Homo sapiens: one gene and its partners. The protein of the gene in region 1 purifies or fractionates together with the protein of each later gene. This does not show direct contact. Each region holds a gene or a part of one and is shown on either strand. Other genes may lie near its edges.

Region 1 (7,025 bases):
AATAGATGGGGTAAATAGCATAATGGATACAAAAACAAACAAACAACAACAACAAACACACATAGAGCAATGCAAAGGAAGCTCAGAGAGAGGAATGCTTCCAGAAAGAAGCAGAAAAGAATTCAAGTAGAGAGTAGAGAGACATAGAAAATAGAAGCAGAGTTTCCAAAATCTGGATAATAGGGAACAAGGAAGAAGAGGGAAAAGAAAAACAAACATAAAAGAAAAGGAAATATTTTAACAAAATTGATAATTAATTCTCCAGAATTCAAAAGAGATGAAAGACCTCAGATAATAAGAGTTTATAAAGGACCAAACAGGATATATAAAGACCCACACCAACACATGCCATATTGAAACTTGAGAATATTAAGATTAAATACAAATTCTAAGATAATTTAGAGAGAAAGAGAAAGAAGAATGAGATTAACATCAATTTTCTTTTTTTTTGAGACAGGGTCTCACTCTGTCTCCCAGACTAGAGTGCAGTGGCGTGATCTCGGCTCACCACAACCTCCACCTCCCCACTTCAAGCGATTCTCCTGCCTCAGCCTCCCGAGTAGCTGGGATTACAGGCACACGCCACTACCGCCCAGCTAATTTTTGTATTTTTAATAGAGATGGGGTTTCACCATGTTGGCCAGGCTGGTCTTGAACTCCTGACCTCAGACGATCCACCAGCCTCAGCCTCCCAAAGTGCTGGGATTACAGGCATGAGCCACCAGCCTGGCCTAATATTTTTAAAATATAGAAGGAAAAGAACTTTGAACATAAATTTATCAAATGTGAGAGTATAATAACTATATTCTCAGGCATGCAAAGCCACTGAAGGTTTGCCACATAAAGACTCACTCTAAAGATATTCATCAGGGAAGTTCTCAAATAAAAAGATAAATCCTTTATAATAAGATATATGGGAAATAAGGCTAGTCAAATAACATACTAAAGTTTGTTGCCTAAAAAGGATAAAAAAGAAAGGATAAGAATTGCTAAAATTCCTTTTTTTTTTTTTTTTTTTTTTTATGGAGTCTGGTTCTGTCACCCAGGCTGGAGTGCAATGGCACAATCTTGGCTCACTGCAACCTCTGCCTCCCGGGTCCAAGTACTTCTCCTGCCTCAGCCTCCCAAGTAGCTGGGATTACAGGTACACACCACCACACCTGGCTAATTTTCGTATTTTTAATAGAGATGGGGTTTCGCCATGTTGGTCAGGCTGGTCTTGAACTCCTGGCCTCAAGGGATCCATCCTCCTCGGCCTCTCAAAGTGCTAGGATTACAAGCGTGAGCCACCGTGCCCGGCCAAAAAATTCCAGAATTAAAATCTTAGACAACAGCAACACAATTGGGATCAGGGCTGGGAAGAAAGGAAGAGACCCAAGGTACACGTAAACTGCTAATGTGTTTGTATTATAACAGAATAAATACAGACTTTAATTCATTTAACAAATTAATAAGCATAAACACAAATTTGGGTCTTAAGAGTAACTACAATAACAACAAAAATATAATTTGTTTTAAATGAGAAAAAATATCTATTAGAAAGCAGGAAATGAGAAGAAATTTAAAATGAAGTATAGTAAGGAGAAAAATATTAAATAAGATATTAGAAATAAGTTCTAATAAAACAATCATTTCAATAAGTATAAATGGATTAAAGTTGCCAATTAAAAGACTCTCCAATTAGATATAAGAGAGAAATAAATACAAAAAGAGAGAGGGCGAGAAAAAGAGAGAGAGAATGAAGAAAGATATCCTAAGCAAATATGAACCAAAAGAAGGCTGGAGAATCTATCTCAATATCTGATAACACAGAATTCAAGTTTTTTAAAAAATAGGAAGAGACATCAATGGAGGATACATACTAGAAAAATAAACAAGAGTAAAAGATGTGAACTTTTATATGTACCTAACAATGTAACCTAAAATATATAAATACTCTAACATAAAGCAAGAACAGACAGAATGACAGGAAAGAGACAAATCAACAGATACACTTGAATATTTTAACATGCTCCTTTCAGACAAAAAAATAAGCAGAAATACAGAAGGTCTAAATAATACACTAAACGTGTTTAAGCAAGTAGATCTATAGAGAGCTCTCTATATCCAAACAGAGAATATGTAATTATTTTCAACATTTTAAAAAAGTAACTACAAACCAGGCTAAAGCTTCAGTGAATTCCAAGGAATCAATATCACAGAGACTATCTTCTCTGACCATCAAATTAAAAATGATAACAAAAATCAAAGCTTAAAATAGTTCCATATGGCTAGAACTTGGTTAAAAATAAAAACATAAGTGAACTTTTAAAAAAAATACATAGAATTGAATGACTATGAAAACACAGCGTGTTGACTTTGTGAGACACAGCTCAAGCATTACTCAGAGAGAAATATATACCTTTAAGTACACTCCTCTTCCTTATTTACTGCTAAAATGAACAAGTGTTTCCCTGAAAGTCACACAAACAGAACATGGAGTGCTGTGGAAAAGCTCTCACCACATACACAAATATCTACCTCGTGGCCTACTGGGCCTTCTGCCCCCAAGATTCATGAGGGACAAAATACGATGCTGTCAATAAACTAAAACCTAAAGTAAAAAACCACATCAGGCAGTGGCACACCCATCTTTGTCAAGGCTCAGTAGGCCTGTCCAAACTATTAACCAAAGCATACTTTTTTTTTTTTTTTTGAGATGGAGTCTTGCTCTGTCACCCAGACTGGAGTACAGTGGTGCAATCTCGGCTCACTGTAACCTCTGCTTCCCCGGTTCAAGTGATTCTCCTGCCTCAGCCTCCCAGGTAGCTGGGATTACAGGCGTCTGCCACTAGCCCAGCCAATTTGTGTATTTTTAGTAGAGACAGGGTTTCACCATGTTGGCCAGGCTGGCCTCAGACTCCTGACCTCAAGTGATCCGCCTGCCTTGGCCTCCCAAAGTGCTGGGATTAAAGGCGTGAACCACCGTGCCCAGCCCAAAGAATACTCTGTTAAAGAAAAATATCATGGCGCTGAATCTCTCAAAAGTTTAGACCTTTTTGATCCATCATTATCAACAGACCCTGGAATCAAGTATTTTATTTCCCTCTTACTAAGGATTAGGCACTGCTAGTTTCAGCTCCCATCCCCTCTGGCATCCACTGTGTGAGACGAAATATTCCCCCCTTTAGTTAAATACTCATCCCCTGATACTGATGTCATAAAAAGAAAACATATTTGCACACAAGTACCTGATACGGTAAGTCAGCCATCCTTAAATAAGTTTCCATCTTTAAACAGAAAGGAGATAAACTTGGAACACCATTGTTAGGTCTTGCAAACTGATGCAAAATAATAGCATCTTTAGAGTCAATCTCTTGCTGTTTCCTGTCAAAACCAAAACAGAAATAAAGTACAATCCACATGTTATCCACATTCGGTTCCCTTATTTCTTGAGAGGACCCTGCAGGGTTGTAGCTCCTCAATGAACAAGCAGATCTGTTTGTCACAGGGGCTTACATCACCCAGCACCCAGTTTGTCGAAGGGGCTTACCTCACCCAGCACTCATGGAAGCTTAGTCAAAACTCAAGAGAACCTTACAAACTCCCATGATATTACCATGACCCCACTGGCTCAGCAAAGTAACTACATAACAACCTCCTTCTGTTACCTATGGCCTCCGGGCAGCAAGAACATTTTCTAGTACTGGTCCACCTATTCTCCAGCCGGCTGTATTTACCTGCTAGGACAAGCTGGATGGATAAAAATGATATTCTGTGCTTGCTGTGTGTCACACATTGTTCTGAGGGTCTCATGGGTCTTATCTCCTTTAATCTTCATAATAACCTTATGAAGTAGGTACTACTGTTATCCACGTTTTATAGATGAGGAAATTAAGGCACAGAGGATTAACTTGCCCAAAGTCACATTGCTAGTTATGGCAGAATGGGCACTCAACCAAGAAGTCAGAGCCCATGGTTTTGGCCATTAGACTATACCATGAAACAGTCTATTCATCCATAAGACCCAGGAATAACAGTGCAGATTTGCTCTGCTATGACCCAAGTCTGTAGGGAATCTGAGACTGAAATTCTGGTCCCTCTTCCCAACTGCCCATGCCCTCACCTAACCCTTCTTTCACCTGTAATGCCATGGAACCTGCCTTCTGGATGCTCTCTCTCTAGCTCTGTCTTCCTTATTTTCTGCCTTCCCAGTATCCCCACTTTTACCACACAGCATGTATTTCAGTACCCCTGCTTTTCCCCTTTCTCCTGTCTCAGCCACACATCCATCTTTTCCTTTGGCTACTCTTTTGGGTGAGAAGGACTTCCCTGCATACAGCTTTTCAATAACCACTACATAATGGAATGAATGCTGGATTCCAAGTCTGGACAACTGGTGTCAAATCCAAGCCCTGCTTCCTACTGGCCACGTTAGCCTAGATCTCTCCACCATCTTCACCTGAAGAGTGAGGACAGTACCAATTCTGTATGGTTTATCATGAGGATTACATAAGGTAATACTGTAACTATTTAGTAAACTATCAAGCATTAAGTAATAGTGGAATTTATCCCCATCCAAAGAGATATGGTCTCATCCCTGCAAGCTCATCATTCCACACAGCCCCACTCATACCCCACTCCTCGGGACCCTTTTGCAATTTCCATCTTCATTTGACCCAGCTGATTTCTAGTCAGATAAACTTCACTCTTCCTTCCCCTTGGCCCTGCCTGAGCCTCTGGTTCCCTCGCATTGTTCCCAGTACAACACCACACCCCCTTCTTTCTACCTAAGCAAGAACAAGCTCTTTGTATCTTCATCACATGGATGCCCACTTCCTGCAGATCCCCATTTAGTAAAACAAACTCTCTTGAAAAGTTTACCACCCAAGGGCCCACTCAACTTCACAGTACAGAATGACTCATTTTGAAAATATGTCAAGTAAAAAAAAAAAATTGCTGCTTTCTGGCAATATTAACTATAAAAGAAATGTTTTCATTTAAATGGAATGTTCGAGAAGTCAGGTATTAAAATCAAGAACTCATTTAGACAATGTTCCAAGACAGCACAAACTATAGATCTGACAATTAACTGATTTTGTCCAGTCAAATAATTCCCATCACAAAGTGGTATTTTCATGTAAATTAACAGACACAAATTTCAGAACCGACAGGAGAGGAGACAAACAAAAAATCCCTGCTCCATCAGCCAGAACGATCTAATTCTAATTGTTAATTTGGGCCATGTCATGGTAAGAATGGAGGCTAATTATCTACCAAGCATATGCTAATGACTTTATATATATTATATATGTTAACTTATTTAATTCTGACAATGACACTTTAGAATGGGTACTGTTACAGTTTAAATTTGGGATATCATATTATACTATTTTATAGTAGATAAGAAAATTGAAGCTCAAAGACGTTAAATAACTTGCCTAAGGAACATCAATTTAAGATTGACTCTGAAATAACTCGTTTCCATGCTCTTAAGCACTTCAAGGTCACCAAAATGGGCAATTCCTCGGTTAATCGTATTAAAACTGCCAGTTTGACTTAGACCACTGAAGCCTGAAACTTTCTGATAAAAGTCACAGCTAATGATGGCCAAGTTTTATTGAATTTTCACCTTGACAAACTCTGTTCTAAGCATGTCACGTGTTATCTCATTTAATCAATGCTATGAGAAAAGCTACTACTACTATTACCATTTTACAGATGAGAAAACTGAGTCATCAAGAGCTTACTGTCATATCCAAGGTTATGTGGTTGGTTACAGACAGAGTCTGAATTTGAACGCAGACAGTCTGGCACCAGAGCCCTCCCTCCAACATGTCAGAAACTCCTCTCTAATTTAGGATCAGAGGTTTGGGTAGGTTGTTCCCTGTACAGCTATATTTTATAAAGTGATCTTACCATAAGGTTTATATAAGAGGACAGCCATAGAGCATTAACTAGCTAGTTTACTACTATTCCCGGGGCTAACGATACCACAGATGAACATGCCTCTGTATACAGCTGATGATTTGTTAGTTTGCAGAGATCAGATGTTGATTCGCCAACTAAATGCTCTAGAAGAGGCTGAGCCCGTGTGTCAAAAGTGCAAATAAGCACTGGTAATGAAGTTAGTACTTAGTCATTCAATTTACAAACAAAAATTTCCAAAGCCTGATTGAATTTAAGATAGCTGCCAAGCTATCTCCACTCAGGGAAAACAAAGTAGTGTGTTGGAACAATATTTATTTTAAAATATGGTGCTAAAAAACATGGATAAAACCCCAAAAACCTACTTCAGTTATATTCATTAATTAAACTTCCTAAGTAATTCTCACCTGTCAACTTTACTCTTCCACTCTAGAGACACAGTCATAGATTAAGGTTATGTCTATGCAGCAGAAAATCCAAGTAGGCTGGGGAAGAGTTTGCAATAGCCAGAAACTCAGGGTAGTCATTTTAAGGTGTATTTTCTATCTTACATATTTCAGATTTTGTTTTGTTTTCTGCCTAAATTATAAAGACTATTGAAACCTAGATTTCACCTTAAGTGGAGGTAGTTATCATGTAACCTCTAAAGCCTTGGTCTTTGACCTTCCTGCCTGGTTTTTTTCCCTTTGCCCCTCCACTCCTCTTCCCCTAGACGCTGCAAGAAAGGCACCTGATACAGGTCTGTCTTCCCTGAGCAATGCTTCAGTTCTCCACATTTCTCTTCCTTCCTCTTCCTCCAACAAAACGGATTTCAAAGTAGGTACTTTTTTTGAGACGGAGTCTCGCTCTGTCGCCAGGCTGGAGTGCAGTGGCACCATCTCGGCTCACTGCAACCTCCGCCTCCTGGGTTCAAGCGATTCTCCTGCCTCAGCTCCCCGAGTAGCTATAGGACTACAGGCGCGTGCCACCACGCCAGGCTAATTTTTGTGGGGTTTTTTTGTTTGTTTTTTAGTAGACGGGGTTTCACAATGTTGGCCAGATGGTCTCGATCTCTTGACCTCGTGATCCGCCCGCGTCAGCCTCCCAAAGTGCTGGGATTACAGGCGTAAGCTGCCGCG
Region 2 (7,474 bases), on another chromosome or scaffold:
AGGAAAAGGAGAGAGGCTCCTGTCTTGTACTAAACATGTCCAAATACCAAATACATTGATACATAAACTTACTATGAGACTTATCAGGTGATACAATGTTCAAGGAGATGAGTACTTCCTTTCCTAGGGTTGAGTGTGTATTTTCAAAAGATTGGATGTAGCTTTACAGTGACAAAAGGGAAGCGTCTCTCTAAAGGTGTCTTGGACTAGAGATGGTGGCATGTTCTAGGATTGTGGTAACTGGTATAGAAAGAAAAATGATCAGCTGGAGAAAGATTAGAAAGGCAGAATATACAGGATTGGATTTGGTAACTGGCTGGACATGGGGTGTGGGAGGAAAAGGGAAGTCAAAGAACATTCTCAAATTTCTTGACCAGACAATTGAGGGAATAATGGTACTAACTTACTATTTCCCATCTGTTGGAAATTCTGGTGGAAATGTCCTAAAAATATTACAGTTTCTCTTCAGTTATGCATATGAAATAAACAGTGCAAAAAATATTTTAGATTTGATTTTAGCATATGATTTTTATCTCCTGGGCTATTTTCCACCTATTTTACGTAAAATAGTATTAAAATGAGTCTGCACCAACAGGAGAGAAAGGAAGTTTAGTTAGCACAGAACTGTGCTTCGTGCATGGAGAAGGCCAGCTTGAAACTAAAATTTGCCATTCAAAGAAATCCACAGGTGAAAAAGTCAAGAATTGACACTATCCCCAAAACACACAAGTGTCTCAAAATGTTTTCCTTGGGCTTACTACTGAGCCCAAGGAAACTAAGCACAGAAATAGCTCTTCCATAAAAACATGACAGGCTTTTAAAAAAGTGAACGAGAAAAAAATCCACAGAAAAAGAGTGCTACTCTTTGAAACACAACATCCAGAACAAAAGACAGTACCTTCAAAACCCACTCAGTCATTGAGAAATATTAACTGTCCTAAAATTCCGTAAAGAGATTAGTGTTGGCTGGGCGCGGTGGCTCACGCCTGTAATCCCAGCACTTTGGGAGGCCAAGGCCGGCGGATCACGAGGTAAGGAGATCGAGACCATCCTGGCTAACACGGTGAAACCCGTCTCTACTAAAAATACAAAAAACTAGCCAGGTGTGGTGGCGGGTGCCTGTGGTCCCAGCTACTTGGGAGGCTGAGGCAGGAGGATGGCCTGAACCCGGGATGCGGAGCTTGCAGTGAGCCGAGATCTCGCCACTGCACTCCAGCCTGGGCTACAGAGCCAGATTCCTTCTCAAAAAAAAAAAAAGAGATTAGCGTTGCCCGAAAATTAGGTTCTTTTTAAACACTTTCATTTTGTCTTTATAAAGCTACATCCAATCCTGTGAAAATGCACAGGTTGCTCTAAGAAAAGAAGTACTCATCTCCTTAAACACTATTACCTGATAAATGTTATATTAAGTTTACATATCAATGCATTTACAATGTATATATTCATGCATTTATATGGGAGGTAACAAATTAGAAGATACACCTTTCTATATTTGCAAAAATGTAAAATGTCACTTGTATTCTCTCAAGGCAGTTTTATTTAAAAAAAAATTTCCTCACATTGAATAGATTATAAAATAAAAATCAGATGCCCCATACTACGGTACCTAGCAACCCCCTTCACCCAACTCCCATGGGCTTCTCCCACACACTATTTCATCAGTCATCTAGGGAGTCTGTAAGGAATGGGTTATCCTTTCCCTTGCAAAACAGATAAAACTTGTGCACTTAATACGCTCAAAGAATGTGTTCAGTTAATTATAAAAAAATGAAAACTATTTGTTTTCATCATTTATTCCTTCAGTCTATATGGTAAAAGAATCCAATTCTCATTAAAAGTTACCATATCAACTCTAAGGAACTTGGTGAATCCATCCGATCACTATCACAGAGGAACTATCCCTTAATTACATGTACAGAGGGTCACCAAATTCCGCTTACAAAAGCTTTCCAACCATTCTATCATACCGGAGGAAAAAGTAATGTTTCTCCTATAGCTATACAAATAAATGTCGTTAGTTTTTCTATAGTTTTCCTGGGCTTTCCTGTTGACAGGCAATATTTCAAAAGAATATAAGATCTGTGATTTATCTTCCACGCCTTAGTTACGGAAAATGATGCTAATACGATAATTGGCTTAAGGTTACAACGCTGACGTTGGAATGTTTACTGCCAAACAAAAGGAGAAATTATACTTAATTTTAAAAAACATCTCAGGAAAGAACATACCCCTAAAAACGTAAATTAAAACTGGTAACATAATTAGACGGTCTCTTAGATAATAGTAATTCAGGTTTCCCCTCCATCGACAGTAACTACCAAGTTTTCCCATGAAATGGAGGTTAGGGACCAGCCTTAGAATACTGAGAAAGATAAGAGACTCCCCTAGAATCGAAAGAGGGAAGAGAAACCAGAGAACAGAAACATGGTGAGGAAAGAGAAAAAACAGCTCTAACGTGCCAAGGGGTCTATTAACAAGAAAAAGGCATTATTGAACCGATTTACCCAGGAGTAACCCGAGCCCAAACCCCCGCCGACCACGGGGCGAACTCCGAAGTCTACTGAAGAAAGCTCCAGAGCCCAGTGACAATGAGAACCGCTCTTCTCTAGGAGTGGGGGCTCTAAGAGGAGACCATGCCTTCCCTGAATCGCCTTCCAGTTTGCTCGTCAGGAGCAAGACCCACCTGGAGACCGCCATGGCCGGGCGCCGGCGGTTCGGAGCTCCCCGCGACCTACGCGCCGCGCAGCTGAGGCGCTAGTTTCCAGAGAGCTGAGCGGCGCAGGCCCAGGCCGCGGAGCACAGGGGAGCGGCCGGTGCGGCGTGGGGCGTTCCAGCGCAGGCCCTCGGGCATCTGCCCTGCCGCCTACCCGAGCTCGTCCCCGCGGCGGCCGGTAAGCAGGGGTCCAAGACGGTAGCGGAGGCGGCAGTCCTCCGACCCGCACGACTTCAAACCGGGTACCCTCAGCTCCGCTCTTTGCTGACGCGGGCGTCGGCACGCACAACTGAGCGTCAGCGCGCCGGAAGTGACGTAAGCTCACCGACAGGAGCTTAGCTCGGCGCGAGCGCCTTTGGTTTGGCGGCACGCGCCTAAATAAAAGCGCTTTGTGCTGATGTGGAGAGGGTGTCTAGTCTTAAAACTAGGGAAGGAGGTGAAGTAAGGGTCCCCTTATTTGACAGAGAAGGAAAAAGGCGATTTAGTCCAAGTCCTGGAACTTCGAAAGCTTGGTTTCTAATTCCACACTACCCAGATTCTGCTTCCCACCGTACTGCATCTAGGAAGCAAGATCAGAAGGACCTTAACATGCTCTTGTCCAGGTGGTGAAGCCAGTGGGAGGAGTGAAAGCAAAAAGTCGCTATGACACTGAAGAAATGGCTCAGATGTTTGTCATTATTTGCCAGAAGTTCTGCCTAGGTATTGGAGAGAAGGTCTTCTGACCAACGATTTTGCCAAGTTTGATTTCTCAATTGTTTATGTTGTTTGTACCATCATTTTCTCAGCCAGCCAGATTTGAAAACTACCATTTTTAAATTTTTGTTCCTTTGGGGGACTTATCTGGCTTTTCAATATTTTTAAGTTCATTAGGCTTTTAAACACTTCTGCCAGGCCCTTATCATCTTACACTTGATTTTTTTTTTTTGACCGAGTTTCGCTCTGTCGCCCAGGCTGGAGTGCAGTGGCGCGATCTCGGCTCACTGCCAACCTGCGCTTACCGGGTTCAAGCGATTCTAAATGTGCCTCAACCTCCCGAGTAGCTGGGAGGCACACGAGCCCCACGCCGGGCCAATTTTTTGTATTTTTTAGTAGAGACGGGGTTTCGCCATGTAGGCCAGGCTTGTCTCCTGCTCCTGGCCTCAAGTGATCTGCCCGCCTCGGCCTCCCAAAGTGCTGGGATTACAGGTGTGAGCCACTGCGCCCGGCCCTTAAACTTGATTTTTATGCTAGTAGTCAAAATAATATTTCTCCAATTTTCAGTTCAGCCCATTTTATAGGCCAACAGATTAATCTTCAAAAAACCTCACTGCTTTTTATCATGTCGCTCCTATGCTTATAAAGCATGTCCATTGGCTTCTCATTACCTGAAGAGGCTATGTCTCAATCCTTGAGTCTGTTTTTCATCTGTAAAATGAGGCTAATGAGAAGTACTGCAGAAGATTGTGGGAATAAAATGAGGTCATGAATCTAGAAGAGCTTACAAGAACTTTGTAAACCATAAAGTAGTATATATGTATGTAAAGAGAAAGAAACTAACAAGTACCTGCTGTGTGCTGGGCACATGACATGCATTATCCATATAATTTGTAGGGAAGCCTTGAAAAGTTAGTTTTAATCTTCGTAGACAAGGAAACTAAGCTCAGAAAGGTTAAGTAATTTGCCTCAAGATTCAAGCTAGTAATAATATTTATTGTCCAGTCATTCAACAAATGTTTGTCACCTCTCTGTATCAGAAACTCTGCTTGGCGGTGTTCATGCTATTAAAATCTAATCAAGTTGATGTTCAAGATATCTTTACATTTTCACTTTAGTCACCTACTTGCCTCATCAGTTTATCTCCCACCATTCAATAACAAGCAGATACTTTTTACTGATCGTGTACAGCAATCATTTAGCCAAAATTAAGCACCTACCATATGAGAGACTGGAACTTCTGAAGAAACCAGAACAGACAAGGTGCCTACTCTGGTTGAATTTACATTAAAAGGAAAGGAAAAAGAAAATAGATAAACATTGAAAATATATTTATGTGCTATGTAAAGAGAATGATGGAATTAATGGTATGATTAAAGACCTACTCTTACTGGGTAAATCAGGGAAAAACAGGATTAGCTTAAGCTGAGCCCTAAATGACAAGAGGTAGCTAAATGTGTGACAATCTGGGAGCCTTCCAGGAAGAGGGTATACGTAGTGCAAAGGCGTAAGAGAAGTCTGCTCTGTTGGGAAATGAGATGGGAGAAGTAGAAAGGGATCATCGTAAGGAATTTGGACTTTGCTCCATATGAAGTAGAAAGTCATAGAGTTTTAAGCAAGTGAGTAAAATGATCTTAGTTATATTTTTTAAATCTTTTTATTATCAGATAATTGGGTATATAGTCTAAATGGCATTAGAAGAGAGGAAAGGACTGGTGGTGTAGATTTGTAAAGGATAGTGTAATAATCAAATATATTGATATTGGACCGGCTTGTTTTTAAATCCTTTCTCACCACACTGAATCGCAGTGTCTCCAGGGGGAATTTTAGAACCTCTCTAAGCTTCATCTGGGAAATGAGGATAATAATAGTACTCATAGGGTTGCGGTGATGATTAAATTAATGCACATAAAACATTTAACCAAGTGACTGCCACGAGAAGCCCTCAAAAATATTATTAACTACATTGCTTACTGTTTTTGTTAACAATGGAAACTTGAGTAAGTGGCAATTTCTAGTCTCAATTTATTCAGCTGTGAAACGGGGATAATAATAGTACCAGTTCACCACCGTTATCTATACCAGTTCATCACCCCTGCCAGATGGTTTTCTGAGTTAAGAATTATTTAGGTTTTGAAAAGAAATCCAATGAATATACCTTGTATTATGCAGCATCCCAACAGCTTGTAGGGCAGTACTCTATAATCAAATATATTTATAGAGCTGCAGCAAAATGTATGACTAACCATACTAAGAGGAATAAGTAAAAGACTATAGATAGGCATATGCCAGTTCAGGCCAGGATTTGCTGCCAAATATATATATTTTGAGATGGCATTTTGCTGTTTCCAAGGCTGGTCTTGAACTCCTGGGCTCAAGCAGTCCTCCCATCTCAGCCTCATGAGTAGCTGGGACTATAGGTGAGTTTTTAAAAGTGTGGTTTTCAGACCATTTTCAATTTCAGAATTGTAAATAATAGATCATGAACCTGTACTTATAGAATTGTCATAAGGAAGAAATGAGTTCATACATGACACACTTAGAAAATACTAAGTATTAGCCAGGTGTGATAGTTCATGCCTGTCATCCCAGCACGTTGAGAGGCTGATGTGGGAGGATCGCTTGAGCCCAGGAATTCGAGACCAACCTGGGCAACATAGGGAGACCTCATGTCTACAAAAAAAATTTTTTTTAATTAGGCTGGGTGCGGTGGCTCATGCCTGTAATCCCAGCACTTTGGGAGGCCAAGGCAGGCAGATCATGAGGTCAGGAGATGGAGACCATCCTGGCTAACACAGTGAAACCCAGTCTCTATGAAAAATACAAAAAATTAACCGGGCATGGTGGCGGGCACCTGTAGTCCCAGCTACGCGGGAGGCTGAGGCAGGAGAATGGCATGAACCTGGGAGGCAGAGCTTGCAGTGAGCCAAGATCACGCCACTGCACTCCAGCCTGGGTGATGGAGCAAGATTCCGTCTCAAAAAAAAAAAAAAAAAAAAAGCCAGCTGTTGGTGGCATGTGCCTATAATCTTGGCTACTCAGGAGGCTAAGGTGGGAGGATCCCTTGAGCCCAGGAACTTGAGGCAACAGTAAGCCATGATCATGCTACTCTACTCTAGCCTGGGTGACAGAAGGAGACCCTGTTTCAATGAAAAGAAAAGACTAAGTATTAAATAAATATTAACTATTATGATTAACTATTTTAGTTATTATTATTTATAATAACTAAATGTACACCATTAAGTGAACAAATATTCACATTATAGGAGTTAAGGAAGGAGAAGTGATAACGAAAAAGCTTATTTAGTGAAATTATTGCTAAAAAAACCTTTCAAGTCTTGGGACAGATATAGAGGGGCAGATTCATAAAACTGAAAGATCCCCCAATAAATACAGCCCAAAGACATCCTCACCAAGGCACATAATAATCAAACTGTCAAAATTTAAAGAAAAATAAAGAATTTTAAAAGCAGCAAGAGAAAAGTGTCAAGTCACATATACGGGAATCTCCATTAGACTACCAATAGATTTCTCAGGAGAAACCTTATAGGCCAGGAAAGAATAAGATTATATATTCAAAGTGCTGAAAGGAATGAAGAAATGAAGAAGAAATAAAGTTTTTCCCAAACAAGCAAAAGCTGAAGAAACTCATCACTACTAGGTCTGCCCTACAAGAAATGCCTAATGGAAGTTTCTTTCTTTCCTTTTTTTTTTCCTTCGAAGTCTTGCTCTTGTCCCCCAGGCTGGAGTGCAATGGCACAATCTTGGCTCACTGCAACCTCCGCCTCCTGGGTTCAAGCAATTCTCCTGCCTCAGCCTCCCGAGTAGCTGGGATTACAGGCAACTGCCACCACACCTGGCTAATTTTTGCATTTTTAGTAGAGACGGGGTTTCACCATGTTGCCCAGGCTGGTCTCAAACTCCTGACTCCAGGTGATCCACCTGCCTCGGCCTCCCAAAGTGCTAGGCTTTCTTGCTTTCTTCCTTTCTTCCTTCCCTTCCTTCCTTCCTTCCTTCCTTCCATCCTTCCTTCCTTCTTTTCTTTCTTTCTTTTTTTGACAGGGTCTT
Region 3 (7,025 bases), on another chromosome or scaffold:
TTAGGAAGTTCTGGTATCAGGAATTCACATGGGCCTGCCCAAAGCAACTTTGCACCACACGACTTTGACCTGGTAAGAGCCCTCCCATGAATCTAACTTAAGGCAATAACCTAACAGAAAGAAAAAGACATATACATTCAGGCCAGGTGCGGTGGCTGATGCCTGTAATCCCATAACTTTGGGAGGCCAAGGTGGGTGGATCACTTAAGGTCAGGAGTTTGAGACTAGCCTGGCCAACATGGCAAAACCCCATCTCTACTTTTTTTTTTTTTTTTTGAGACGAAGTCTCATTCTGTCGCCTGGGCTGGAGTGCAGTGGCATCATCTTGGCTCACTGCAAACTCTGCTTCCCGGGTTTATGCCATTCTCCTGCCTCAGCCTCCCGATTAGCTGGAACTACAGGTGCCCACCACCACGCCCGGCTAATTTTTTTTGTATTTTTAGTAGAGACAGGGTTTCACTGTGTTAGCCAGGATGGTCGCGATCTCCTAACCTCGTGATCTGCCTGTCTTGGCCTCCCAAAGTGCTGGGATTACAGGCCTGAGCCACCGCACCTGGCCTTTTTTTTTTAATTGAGATGGAGTCTCACTCTGTCACCTAGGCTGGTGTGCAGTGGCACGATCTCAGCTCACTGCAACCTCGGCCTCCTGGGTTCAAGCAATTCTCCTGTCTCAGCCTCTTGAGTAGCTGGGATTACAGGCGCGTGCCACCATGCCTGGCTAATTTTTGTATTTTTAGTAGAGATGGGGTTTTGCCACGTTGGCCAGGCTGCTCTTGAACTCCTGACCTCAGATGATCCACCCACCTCGGCCTCCCATAGTGCTGGGATTATAGGTGTGGGCCACCACACCTGGCCCTTTAAACTGTATATTCTGCATATATGAATACACTGTAGGGTAAACGCCAAGAATGGAATTTTTGGGTAAAGGGCATGTGTCTTTTAAAATAACGTTAGTTTTATTATAAAAAACAACTCAAAATATCCAATTGTTTCCAGCATCTCTTCTGGCAAACAGAACCGTCTATCTGCGTACGCCTTCCAAGGCACTTGGGTAGGAATGGAAGCCCCGCACTAGGCTTCAGCAGCCTCCAGTGCCCACCCAGGGTAAGAAGGGGTTTTCCTGGGTCACGAGTTCCTCTGCCCCTTTCAACTCCAAGAGAAGGAGCGCTGACACTTCAGTCTCCACCTTTGTAAAATGGGGACGCACCCTACATCGTGAAGATGAAATAGGATAATACACGAGAACACTGCTGGCCAGGGAAGGGTGAGAACAGAGAGTGGCGGGTAAACCTTACGTGTATCTTGCCCTTGACGAAGGTGGTGATATCTTCCTCACTGTCGAAGATGGACAGTGTCTGGAGCAAGTTATTTTCCAGCCATTCCCAGTGTTTTGTGATCTCTTTGCGGGAAGAACCTAGAAGAGGTTTGGTAAAGTAAAAGAAAAATCATGAATTCCCCAGGCCTTAAACGCACATTCAAAGAAGCGAGATGAAAGTGGGTGACCTCATTTGCTAAATCTAAGTGACCAGAATCTTCAAGCTGCTTTTCCCTCTTAAGCTGATGGATATGTGCATAACAAAGTAATAAATGGTCCTGGTAAAAAAACAAAAAATTAAACGTCCAGGCTGAATCACAGTCGTGTGGGAGAGAATGTTTCCACCTGTCCCTGAAGCCAACAGGGAGAGTCACTAAGTCTCCTATGTGTCCTAGAAATAGTCTGTGTGCCTGCAAGCTTGCTAACTTACACTTTTCCTCAAGTTGAAAGAACTTAATGTGGCTTTTGCTATGTAGGTGATTAATCAGACACAGTCATACTTTGTATAAATGAGTCCAGCTCTTTCCTGAGCATCTAGGTATCCACAGATAAGCAGCCGGAGCTTCCTACAAGACTCCAGGCCCCTGGCCAGCGAGGCTCCTGCTGGGCAGGCGAGTAGCTACTGTCCCTCTCTTCAGTTTCTCCTGGCCACCTTCTTACCTTGTGTCTGCCCCACCTAGGAGGGAGGGGGTCCCTGTCCTCCATAGGCCCAACGGAAATTAAAAAAAATGTAGAGAAAATCTGGGCGCCGTGTCTCATGCCTGTAATCCCAGCACTTTGGGAGGCTGAGGCAGGAGGGTCATTTGAGCCCAGGAGTTCGAGATCAGCCCGGGCAGCATGGCGAAACCAAAAATACAAAAAATTAGCTGGGCGTGGTGGCATGCACCTGTGGTCCCAGCCACTCAGGATGCTGAGGTGGGAGGATTGCTTGAGCCTGGGAGGCGGAGGCTACAGTGCAGCCTGAGTGACAAAGTGAGACCTCGTCTCAAAAAACAAAACAACACACAAAACAAAAACGTAGAGAAGGCAGCACGATGCCACTTTCAAAGGCTGGAAGAATTGTTTGCTCCCATTAAGGAATCGGGGAAGAAGCCCCGGGGGAAGAGCAAAGGGATGAGGGGAGATCTCTGCCTGGCCTGGCTCCCCTACCCCCAGCACCTGTTTCTGGGGTTTTGCCTGTACTGAATGAACACAAGGATGAGGAGTGAATGACACCCTGAATCATTCTCAGCTGTCCGGGGGTGGGACAGGAGGCCCACCCACCAGGCATGAAGACAGCCTCAGCCAAGACATGGCAGATTCTCGTTATTCAGGTGGTCAGATTCTGTAAGGTGGCCGCGAACACTGAGTTAGCGAATCCTGAACCAGTACCCTGGGGGAACACAGGGTTAGGTTCCTGGAGCCTCTAATCACACTCTTGTCGACTGACCGATACATAACTGTTTTACATGTTTCTGTTTAAAGATGCCTTATTTAATACGTATCCCTGATCGATTGGCATTGAGCTCACGGCCAGCAGCACTATCACTCACGCCTGAAAGAAGCTGCTCGCATGCACGGATCTCCTTCACAAGGCACAACTCAGCCTTCTTGCTCTTAGGAACAAGAGCACTACGGCACTATGCTCGGGAGGCCAGTGTGACTGTGAACCAGACGTCTCTGCTGGCACGCCTGCCCCGACCACCTTCCTTCCCTCCCTGACCAGGCTCTTCTGCCAGCTGGAGACAGCTCTGACCCTCCCTCCAGGCCAGGCTGGGCCTGTCACCTGCTCCAGCCCGTGGCACCCGCTCAAGGCTGTGTCACAGCCCGGCTGTTCTGCTTGGGACTGATTTGTTTGCTTTGTCAAATCTCCTCAAGCAGACCCTGACCTAAGAAGCAAGGCCACAGGATAGATCCTCCCGATTGGCCTGGGGGAGGATGCCCACGGGAAAACGATTCCACCCAGAATCACACAGCTTGCAGTGAGTCACAAAAGGCCCCCAGAATTACTCCTGGAAGCCCCTTAAGTCATCCATAATTCACTTTAAACTTTTTTTTTCATTTTTCTTTGCATTTCTATTACAGCCTCCTTTCCCTGATGCACAGAGGCCAAGGCCTAGTTGGTAGGTAGAGATTTCTTTTTCGGTTTCTTTGCCAGGAACCCACAGTTGAATTTGGAAGTCAAATTTACATGTGGTGCAACTCTACTGTATTATTTTCTGTTACACATAACATTCCTAGAAAACTAAAACAGAAGAAATCTCCTCCTCGCTGCCTGTGTGGATGTGTCAGCACTTTAATTAAAAATATTTATAGGCCGGGCACAGTGGCTCAGTCCTATAATCCCAGCACTCTGGGAGGCTGAGGCAGGGGAATCGCTTGAGCCCAGGAGTTTGAGATCAGTCTGGGCAACATGGCTGTCTCTACAAAAAATAGAAAAAATGAGGCATGGTTGCGTGGGCCTGCAGTCCCAGCTAGTCAGGAGGCTGAGGTGGGAGGATCGCTTTAGCCAGAGAGCTGCAGTGAGCTGTGATTGCACCACGGCACTCCAGCCTGGGCAACAGAAAGAGAACGCCTCAAAAAAACATTTCTTTTTTTACATATGTGCATTAAAAATATTAGTTAAAAGTAACTCAATCTTCATTTCATACTAAGAAACTATTCCATCTCTATGCTAGGTGCTGGGAATAAAAATAATATAATAGCTAATTAGAGTATTAAATGCTGTTTCTGTTTTCAGAGTTTTCCATGGATTATCTTATTTCATTCTCAGAACACAGTGGAGACAGGTACCATTATTTTCATTTTACCAGATGAAGCTGAGGCACAGAGAGGTGAAATAAGTTACCCAAGGTCACACAGCTGGGAAGTGATCAAATCAGAATCCTAACCCTGGGTGCCTGGCTGCAGAGCCTGCCCTCACCCTCGGAAGCTCCCGGCCTCATGGGCTTCCACGTAAAAGCGTGTGCAGACACGTCATGTCCAGAGGAGTAAGGAGGAAGGATGGGTCTGTGGAGTCTGGGCAGTTCTCAGAGGAGCGGGAGGGAAGGTTAGCTGGCATGGCGGACACTAGGCACAGCAGCCAGGAGGGGTGTGGCTCCTCCAGGCCCTGCAGCTGTGTGGTCCGGCTGAAGGCCAGGCTGTGAGCTGGGGAGACAAGGCCAGAAATGGAGGCAGGCAGACCCCCAGGTGTCCTCGAACACCAGGCTCAAGGGTCAGGACTCACTAAGCAGGTGCTGGCAGGGCCATGTCTGGTCTTGGTGAGTTGCTTCTGGGGCCTAGCCTGGCTGGCAGGAAAGGGAGGCACAGCCAGGGCCAGTGCAGGGCTTTGGGCCTGGCAGGAGGGGAGAGGTCAAGTGTGTGGCACGGGGCTACGTACATGGGCTCCGCTGCGTGGCTGTGGCTGGGCCCCTCCCCAGCACCAGGCCTGCTGTGACTAAAGGGATTCCCACTCTGCCCCTCGTACTTTTCTCTCCCCAGGGACGGGCAGCTCTTGCTGCCAGAGATGGAAATCTCAAGGGCCCATGTTAAAGCAGCTCCTCTCCTCATTAGCACACACCAACCTCCTGGCCCACTCAGAAATGGTCCCCTCCCCACAGGAAGCCCCTCCTCTGGCAAACTCTTGCTGCCCCCAGGGTCCACTCAGGCTCTGAAGCCAGAGATCGGGGGTCTAACTGGGCTTCCCTGCTTGGCCTTGGACAAACTCCCCTTCCTAACTCTTACTGAGTTATTCAGTCCTGCAAAGGAGAAGGGCACTGCTGGTCAGGATGCCCGTGCAGAGCGCCCACCTGGGAGTGGGGCTATTCCCGGGGTGCCGCCCGCCCTGTGCTTTTACTTCCTTGACCCTTCCCCTCCTGAAGCTGGGTTCCAGCCGTGAGGTTGACAAACTTTTGAGTCTCATCATCTTCTCCCAGGCCTTCAAGGGAAACCACTACCCTGGAGAACAAGGGCACTGTGGCTTCTGCTTCAGAGAGGTACTGAGAGGGTCCAAACTGCAGCTGTGTGACTCTGAGCAGGTTACTCAACCCCTCTGGGCCAGAGTTTCTTCACCTTCAACATAGAGAAGACCAAAGTACTTATGCCTTCTGGAGGTACCGGGTGGTTCAGGCAAGTGCCTGGCACACAGGAAGCACTGTCTGAGCGTCAGCTAGGACTGTCATTTTCTCAGAGCAAACTCAACCCAGCAGGTACCCGCTGAAAGGGGACTTCCCTCCGCACTCTTGGACGGGTGAGTGCGCTTCCACCTAGGAGGACAACTACAGCGGATTCTCGTTATTCAGGTGGTCAGATTCTGTAAGGTGGCCGCGAACACTGAGTTAGCGAATCCTGAACCAGTACCCCGGGGGAACACAGGGTTAGGTTCCTGGAGCCTCTAATCACACTTCTGTCGACTGACCGATACATAACTGTTTTACATGTGTTTCTGTTTAAAGATGCCTTATTTAATACGTATTCCTGATCGATTGGCATTGAGCTCACGGCCAGCAGCACTATCACTCACGCCTGAATGAAGCTGCTCTCATGCACAGATCTCCTTCACAAGGCACAACTCAGCCTTCTTGCTCTTAGGAACAAGAGCGCTATGCTTGGGAGCCATTTTAAACAGCCAAGTCATCAGCAACGAGCACAAACATGGGAAAAACATGGCACTGCAGAGACTGTGAACAGGACACGTGAGTGCAGTATGAGAGCTGAATCAAGAAGGCAGAGCGTCGTCCTGTTCTGCCTCAGCTGGGGACATGGGCATCAGGCGAGTCAAATTTTTCACTGCTTTGAACGTGCATGTGTCCATGAGTGTCTCCAAATGACCACAAAATCGCTGGAAGTATTGATTTGGGGATTGCAAATACATTTTATTGAGTAGGCCAATTTGCAAATATGGAATCTTTGAATGAGGCCGACTACGTCTACCTTGAGAAAAGGTGGCATGAGAATGTGGACATTGGCTAGCCCCACACCTGCGTCCCTAGAGGTACATGGGGATCCATGGGGCTGTCCTCTCCTGCCCTGTCCCCATGACCAGTGGAGCTGCCTTTTTTTTTTTTTTTTTTTTTTGAGACGGAATCTCGCTGTGTCGCCCAGGCTGGAGTGCAGTGGCGCGATCTCGGCTCACTGCAAGCTCCGCCTCCCGGGTTCACGCCATTCTCCTGCCTCAGCCTCCCGAGTAGCTGGGACTACAGGCCTCCGCCACCACCCCCAGCTAATTTTTTGTGTTTTTTAGTAGAGACGTGGTTTCACCGTGTTAGCCAGGATGGTCTCGATCTCCTGACCTCGTGATCAGCCCGCCTCGGCCTCCCAAAGTGCTGGGATTACAGACGTGAGCCACCGCACCGGGCCACGGAGCTGCCTTTCTAAGATGGAAGCGAAGGCTCCTCCACTTCCCTCTTGCAGCCTTGGGCTATGCTGTCAGCAGGGAATACCACCCAGACACGTGGGCTACACACCCCTTCCTCTCGGCAACGGCCCTTCCAGGGCAGGCCCTGCCCAGCACCCCTCACCACTCAGGGCACCTACCACACGCCACTGTCCAGTAGACCTGGGAGTCCTGGGTCTGGTGCAGGATGCGGTAAGGGGCCACGCGGGCACTGGAGTCCAGCACCACGTCCAGGGTGCCCACGAGAAGACCTGGGAACAGGGCAGAGAGACATAGAGGGTGAGGGGAGGGCCGGACTGAGGCCCCTGAAGGCTGAGTCTGGCCGGAGGCAGACAGGATGGTGACGCTACCCAAAGG

What was found. Proteins that work in one complex are often made in the same cells at the same time.
Region 2: the proteins of FAXC (region 1) and BTAF1 purify together in Homo sapiens (co-immunoprecipitation; 2 studies listed by BioGRID and IntAct, with this or other methods). This does not show direct contact.
Region 3: the proteins of FAXC (region 1) and TBC1D9B purify together in Homo sapiens (co-immunoprecipitation; 2 studies listed by BioGRID and IntAct, with this or other methods). This does not show direct contact.

The regions. Positions count from the first base shown.
Region 1 is NC_000006.12:99,339,668-99,346,692, forward strand, and holds part of FAXC (failed axon connections homolog), read right to left. Parts: intron 3,367-7,025; coding exon 3,231-3,366; intron 1-3,230. UniProt on the Homo sapiens protein: May play a role in axonal development.
Region 2 is NC_000010.11:91,919,300-91,926,773, reverse strand, and holds the start of BTAF1 (TATA-binding protein-associated factor 172), read right to left. Parts: upstream 3,005-7,474; 5' UTR 2,698-3,004; coding exon 2,684-2,697; intron 1-2,683. UniProt on the Homo sapiens protein: Regulates transcription in association with TATA binding protein (TBP). Removes TBP from the TATA box in an ATP-dependent manner.
Region 3 is NC_000005.10:179,897,894-179,904,918, forward strand, and holds part of TBC1D9B (TBC1 domain family member 9B), read right to left. Parts: intron 6,920-7,025; coding exon 6,809-6,919; intron 1,415-6,808; coding exon 1,296-1,414; intron 1-1,295. UniProt on the Homo sapiens protein: May act as a GTPase-activating protein for Rab family protein(s).